Linked DNA regions of Homo sapiens. The protein of the gene in region 1 interacts with the protein of each later gene in a pairwise test. Each region holds a gene or a part of one and is shown on either strand. Other genes may lie near its edges.

Evidence for each region. The genes of interacting proteins can lie anywhere in the genome.
Region 2: the proteins of FLNC (region 1) and MYOT interact in binary tests that used the Homo sapiens proteins (3 or more experiments, as listed by UniProt).

The regions. Positions count from the first base shown.
Region 1 is NC_000007.14:128,847,331-128,851,082, reverse strand, and holds part of FLNC (filamin-C), read right to left. Parts: intron 3,387-3,752; coding exon 3,219-3,386; intron 3,139-3,218; coding exon 3,015-3,138; intron 2,523-3,014; coding exon 2,366-2,522; intron 2,291-2,365; coding exon 2,101-2,290; intron 1,903-2,100; coding exon 1,879-1,902; intron 1,753-1,878; coding exon 1,505-1,752; intron 1,108-1,504; coding exon 1,009-1,107; intron 922-1,008; exon of another isoform or gene 700-921; coding exon 600-699; intron 281-599; coding exon 140-280; intron 1-139.
Region 2 is NC_000005.10:137,865,762-137,869,513, forward strand, and holds the start of MYOT (myotilin), read left to right. Parts: upstream 1-2,098; 5' UTR 2,099-2,192; intron 2,193-3,752. UniProt on the Homo sapiens protein: Component of a complex of multiple actin cross-linking proteins. Involved in the control of myofibril assembly and stability at the Z lines in muscle cells.

The DNA.
Region 1 (3,752 bases):
ATAAGCCTCCCTGGGGCCTCGCCTGGTGTCTGCACACAGCGGGTGCTCAATAAATATTTGTTGAAAGAGGGAAGGCAGGACTGAAGCTACGGCCTGCTCCTCTCACCCAAGCCCCAGCCCAGCCCAGCCCCTAACTCACCAGGGATGTGGTTGCCGTCATACTTGATCCCCATCTGGTGCAGGCCTTTCTCAGTGGGTGCATACCTCACCGTGATGGTGCCGTCCTTGTTGTCGGTGATGTTGGGCCGTGCCGTCTTCCCCGAGGGCATCCGCACCTCTCCTGCAGGGCAGACACAGTTACGTGGAGACCCTGGTTTCCCCCACTGCAACCTCCCTGCTGTCCCAGGCCTGGTCCTGAGTGCTTCTGCTGCCACCCGAGAAGCCAGGCATCAAGAGACAGCCTGTGGCAGTGGCCTGAGCCCTGAACTGGGGACAGATGGCTTGCACCTGAGTTCTGGCTCTGCCCAACTTGCTGTGTGACCCTGGGTAGAGCTCACTTCCTCTCTCTGGGCCTTTGTTTTCATCATTAAGACACAGGACTGGGCCTGGAAGAGGGTTTCTCCCCTCAGCCCTCATGCCTGGGAGCCACAGGGCAGTACCTGTGAGCTCCCCTTTCTGCACCGCGAAGGGGATGACCAGGTTGAAGGGCCTCAGCATGGACTCCATTGGCTCCACAGGCACCACTGGCTCCTCTGTGGCCTGCAGCAGGTGAGAGGGAACAGTCAGTGACTGGGGAAGGCCCAGGAGTTTGACCCATGCTATGACTGAAGCTGGAGAGTGAGGAAAGAACAAGGTAGTTAATCATGAAACCAGCGTGGCAGGAGAGGTGCGTCAGCTGCAAGAGAAGGAGTGCTGTGCCCAAGTGGGGTTCCATCTGCCCAGCCTAACTCTTGCCTGCTCCCCAAGAGGCCCCCAGACCATGTCCCCGCCCTGGCTGCAGAGGAGTAGAGAGAAGAAATGAAGGAAGGGGAGGAGGAGGAGGACATCGCCTGGTGGGAGGCGCAGTACCCAGTGTGTGGGGCGGGCGCCGGGCCGGGGAGGAGCGTAGGGCTGGCGCAGCTGTGGCACTTCAGAGGGCTCCTCCTCGTGCGGCAGGGGGTCACACGCCTGGGGAGGCAAGGCACGGGGGCACAGGGTGTGGCAGCCTCACAGGCCTAGGGGCTGACTCAGAGAATGGCCCAGGAACCTGAAATGCTGGGTGATAATTTGGGTGTTCATCCTCCTGCAGGGCAGCCTCTGGGGAGATGGAGCTGGGGATGGTGGAGAGCACAGCGGGTTCCTCCAGAGACAGCTGACAGCACTGGGCAGGGGGCAGGGCCATGCTCTCCTCCCACTTCGGGGGTGCTGTGGGGAAAGTTAAGGCTCCATCCTGGAGCACTCTGGCCCCAGGAGCCCTCAGAGAAGTGGGATTCCTTGGGGACAGTTATCTGGGATCCCTGCTGCTGCTAAAAGGGCCAGGCCCCCCTCCCCAGCCATCTAGTCTTGCTGTGGCTACAGAACTTACCAGCACGTGGAAGGGGCTGTTGGGGATGTGCTCACCCCCGAAGCGGATGGTGATGACGTACTTGCCCGGCTCGGGCGCTGTGTAGTAGATGTCAAAGGTACCGTCATGGTTCTCAACCACATCCACATCGAGCTCTGCCCCATCCGGCGTGGACACCGTGCATGTCACCTTCCCCTCACCGGCTGCCTTGGCATCCACCGTGATCACCGTCTCCTGCCCAATCTGGATTCGAGGGCCCAGGCAGGCACCTGCCATGCGGGAGATCCTGCTCAGGGAGCTGGTGGGCTGGAGCCAGCCCTCTCTGTTCCCGCTGCCCGCCCCCTACCGCCAACCACCCTGGCCCACACCAAGAAGAGGAGAGAAAGGGCACTCACCCAGGCCATGGCCTCCAATGGACACTGGAAAGAGAGAAGAGTGTGAGGCCAGGCGGTGCTCAACGTGGGCTGGGGCATTGGGCGGGGGTGAGGGAGGGAGGGGCCAGGGCTAGGGCATGTGTGCTCTCCGACCAGCAGACCCCTGGGGACCAGGCCAGGGTTCTGGAGGGGCTTTGAGGGGCTGGGTGGTGAGCAGGGCACGGGCAGCGGGTGGGCACCCACCTGTGACGAGGCACTTGCTGGCATCCCCAGTGGGCAGAGCATGGATGCGGAAGGGCGAGTAGGGGATCTCATCACCGCCATACTTGATGGTGATGGTGTACCGGCCACTCATGTCCGGCAGGTAGGACACAGTGTACGTGCCATCCCCATTGTCCCGGATGTTGGCCTTCTTGGGCTTACCCTCGGGGTCCTGAGGGAGAAGCAGAGGTCAAGGCCCGCCTGTGCCTGGAGCATGACCTGCGGGGTGGGATGCACAGAGACTCACCAAGATCTGGACAGTGAGCAACCCCTCGCCCGCGTCCCGTGCGTCGATGGTGAACTCCACAGGCAGGCTGGCAGGGATGCCAGAGGCGTTGAGGCCTGGGCCGCTGGCCCGCACCTTGCTGGCATCATGAGCTGGGAGGACCTTGATCTTGAAGGGGCTTGAGGAGCAGAAGGGATAAACAGTTGGCTGGGTGGCATGGACGGGGCGGTGGGGGGTGATCTCATCTTGAGCCAGAGTCCTCCCCATAGACATGGGCAGGAGGGAGGACTGTGGGGCAGGGAGGAGGGACCAGTTCCCAGAAGCCGATGACATTCCATGTCTGGGGGTGGGGGCACTCTGGGACTCCCTCGACAGAGCCAGGGTACGTCTCCATTCCCCAGGAAGGTGCTGTGGGAGGGTCCAGGAGGAGGCCCTGGCCCAGGCCTCCTGCACTCTTCCTAAGGCGCTAGGTTTGCCGTAAAAGCTCCTGGGGCAGGAAAGCCTCACAGCAGAGAGCCCCGGGGAAGAGCGGGATGGGGTGGCGAGACTGGACGAGGCTGAGAGCTGGGAGAGGCTCTCCCAGGGGACTCCAGCAGTGATCCTGAGTGCCACCCCAGCAGGAGCACCCCAGAGCTCAGCCGCAGCACAGGAGCCCAGGGCTGGTCCTCACCTGCGTGGCACCTCCTGGTCAGCATACTTGACGGCTACCGTGTAGGGCCCGTCAGTGGCTGGGGTGTAGTGGACAGTGTGGGTGCCATCTCCATTGTCCCGCACCTCCACAGGCTCGGCCACACCTGGGCAAGGGGCACAGGGTCAGCAGAGCCTCCGGGCGTCCCGCCCCACCTCCCTCCTCCCTGCCCCGGCCATTCTATACCTGTGGGGCCCAGCACAGCCACCTGCAGGGGCGCCCGGCCAGCTTGACTGCAATCCACTGTGAAGGTCTGAGGAACCCGGGCCCTGACACCAGCCCCCAGCCCTGGCCCTGAGCACTTCACCTTCCCAGGGTCCACCACATCCTTCACTGGCACGCGGAACGGGCTCCCTGTGAGGAGAAGGACATTAGACCCTGCCCACCAGCCCTGATGGGTCCCCCTGATGCTGAGGAGCCTCGGAGGAGGAGGCCTTCCCTGCCTTTGAAATGCCCACAGGGAAGCCAGACCAACATGGGAAAATGGCTAGGAACTTGCTAAGAAAACACACACAAGAATAAATGAACTTGACTGCAGACTGAGGCTGGGCAAACCTCACTCATGTGGGTCCCAGGCCTGGAAGAGAAGGCCTTCCTAAATTAATAAAATGTGAAAATAAAATGTTTTCAAAAATGAAATGTATTTCTGACACTGTGGCTGAAATAATAAAAAGATGGGAAATTAGATAAGGGAAAAAATTTCCAATTTCAGCAGTCCCA
Region 2 (3,752 bases), on another chromosome or scaffold:
CTACTGAGAATGGTATCATAAAAGAGGACCTACTTACCTTTCCTAAATCATCCCTTGATCCCATTATAGCAAAAACTTTAGCCTTGACGTACCATGAAGGCTATCACATGTAACACACGGTAACCTGGGTTGTATCTTACAAAGACCTAGAGAAGAGGCAAAGCTTGAAAGACAAAGAGTAAGCAGAACTAAATTCTTCCTCGAGTGTAGTATGCTTAGAACCTGCTGTAGGCAAAATTGGGAATTTAGCAGGTTGTCCTGGATGTCTTCCCTACTTGGCTGGTGAGGTATACCTCAAACTTTTAGTGCAGAGAGACCTCAAATCTATTATTTCCTTTTCCATGCCCTAATCAAACCCTGTTCTCCAGCAGAACCAAATGTCAGTCACATATACCACATTTAAAATTGCTTAGAATAGATAGGCTGGGCATGTGGTTTATGCCTATAATTCCAGTGCTTTGAGAAGCCGACGTGGAGGATCGCTTGAGGCAAGGAGTTTGAGACCAGCTTGGGCAACATAGCGAAACTCTGTCTGTCCAAAAAATTTTAAAATTAGCTGGGTATAGTGCTGCATGCCTATAGCCCTAGCTACTTGAAAGTCTGCAGAGGAAGGATCTCTTGAGCCCAGGAGTTTGAGGCTGCAGTGAGTTCTGATCATATCACTGCACTCCAGCCTGGGTGACAGAGTAAGACCCTGTCTCTAAAAAAAAACTAATAATAAAATAAAATGCTTGAAGGAGTGTCTTACTCATAATAAATGCTATATATTGGCTATTATTACTTTTATCCTATCACTTGCATTTGTATTTTAAGTCTCTCTAATTTAGATGGAAAGGTTTTGTCTGTATTACTGGAATTTGAAATATCAGTGAACAGATGTTGAAGAATATTTTGGGAGACTCCTGAAATAAGACTTTGTAGGCAACCACCTACTCACCAAGTCTAGCATGCTTTTTCTACTAAGGGCTGCACGCCCAGGCAGAAATTATCAAGCTTTCTTTGAACACCAAAGAAAGGTACACCTACTTGGCCAGCTGTGAAGGATTTTATATGGCTCATATGTGCTCAAACATCTATTTGCTGGATTCTAATATACATGTTAATTCAATCAAGATTGGGGTATCTACCCATGAGGGAGGGGAACTGAAGCCACCCCATGGAGATAATTCTACTCCCTTGGCCCAATCCTCATGCCACCTACCCTACTTCACCACATTTGCTGATTCGACATTTTATTCTTCTGCAATTATTTACTTCCCTGCACAAAAATGGAAATCTAAATACCATGATGGTCTCTGTGACAAAAAGTGAAAGGAAACTAACTGTTAGGAATAAAGGGAGATGAACATGCATTGACAGCTCTAATTATATAGATTGCTTATTTGTTTGGTTGTTTCTTAAGTGTTTCAAAACTCTTTCAGAATAAAAGTACTAGGCAAAAGGGGCATATGCCATACAGATTCAGAAAACTTGCTCAAGAAACACCATCATGTTTTTCCACCTCCCTACCTTCCCAGTGACATGTCACTATGACCTCGGTCTCCTGCTTTGCCCAGACTGCCCTCCACCTCGGAACAAACTGCTAGTACTGAGAGACCTCAAATCTATTATTGAATCCTACTCTCATTAGGCAAAAGAAAAAAGACTTCAGATGAAGAATTATGCAATACAAATCAATTGGGAGCCCATCTATCACTGGTCTTATTCCTGGAGAAGTCTTAGTATAATAGATAGAAGAACTCCACTCTTGAAATATTATTTTCCCTTTAGTCCTCTCTCTTAAACTGGGAAAATTCAAAGTCCCCACCATAATAAAGAAATAAGAGGGTTTTTTTTCTATTTTTCCCATTTCCCTATTCACTGCCCTTCCCTCACATGAGCTTGCTAAAGTTCATAGTCAAAATTCACGTCTGAAATAAAGAGGCTTGCAAAAGAAGCTCATGTAATCCCACTCCTTAAATACCACTAAGACACGTGAGATATTGTTTAGATTGTGGACTCTTACTTTGACATGCCAGCATAGGTAGATGGACAGGCAAGCACATCAGATGTCACTGTTTGGCAGCTGATAAAAGTCAGTGGTGCTATAATACTAAGCACAGAGCCACTAGATTAGTCTGTGAGGGAAGGAGATGCCTCTTCCTTCCCTTCAATAGTGGGTTAAACCCAGCTGGCACCCTCTGGAACTACGGGTAAGTCCCTTCTTTATTCCTACTACACTTTTAGGTCTTGTTTTTGTTTTTTGTCCAAATCAGATGAGTGTATACAAAGATGATTTTCAGATAAAAAGTTTGAAAGCCACAACATTATAATGGTATTACACAAAAATTTAAAGAGAAAGCGACTCATTCATTTCATTGAGACTGGAAGGCATTATACAAATGATAGAAGGAAAGATAGCTGTGTGTCATTATTTTTAAATCACCATTTTTCCTTGAAAAGGGACACTTGATCTGATGTAATTGTGGTGATGTCTTATGAACGCAACATATCCTCTATCAGTCTTCTGTGCAAGTCTATGCTATATTAGAGACAGGAAAAAAATGTTAAGATTTTTTAAAAAGGAGACTGAATAGTACTTTATTTATAAAAATCTTTGAAATTCATTTAACATTATTTGGAATAAAATGACCCTGTCATATAACAGAATCTATTATAGAATTAAATTGTTGAACAGTAACTACAAACATAAAGAAAATACAGGATCACCTGCGTAAATGTCTGCATAAAATTTTGACACATGGATAAAATGAAACTTATGAAATAACATATTTTTAATTGGGCTTTTAAAAATATCACTAATTATTAACAATGTAGGCCAATATCAACATGTACAAGACAGTTGCCATTCTGAAAATATATGTAAAGAAAAAAAGAGAACTGTTTCTGGAAAATATCTACTATTTCATAAGCGGTTTATTCCTTGCTATCTGAAATGAGTCTCAATAATGTACCTGCCCAGAAAGAAATTTAGGAATCAAACTCTGGATTCAATTCTGCAACAGACTGAATAAACCGATAACTACAAAACTACTTGCCTTGAAATAGACTTTTTTTTTAGATCTACTCAAGGCCCTCCTTCAGGATGTTTTTCCCCAACAATTTAAATGCCTAAAGTAGTTCATTTCTAAAATGCATTCTAGTTTAATGTATTTGTGTTCATAAACTTGAAATTAAGGAATATTTAACTTTTTAAGTATTCTTTCTCAATAGCGTCTTTCTCTTGGCTGTTTAGTTGCATTTCTGTTTTTTCCTAAAATTGCTAGTTTTAATTTAACTCTAAACTACATAGGCAACTTTGAAATACTATTTTTTGAAGGTATCCTATTATTTAGGATGAAACTCTTTGGTCTGGAAAAGTTTTATTAACATTTTATCCAAGACAGTAACTAAAATAATTAGAAGACTTCGTTTCAATGATGACAAACAATTTGGTTAATTTTTCAGTTAAAAGTTTGATTTGTCATTATCTCAGTATTGGCTTATACCAGATGAAACAAAATAGGCAAATGTATTTTGAATCAATTTATCTGATATTTTCAATGAAAACAGGATTAGTGTGAAAACAATTTATAGGACTAGTCTTTGTGTGTAATGTCTATATATAGTCCCGCTTAGGTTTACCATACTAATGGAAAAAAAATCAGAGACAAATATAATCCTTCAAGGTTGATTTTCATGGCAAATGTTTCATCTGAGAAAAAATGAGGATGTACTGTAGGAAGGCAGGAGGCCCACTACAGAGCTAAGTA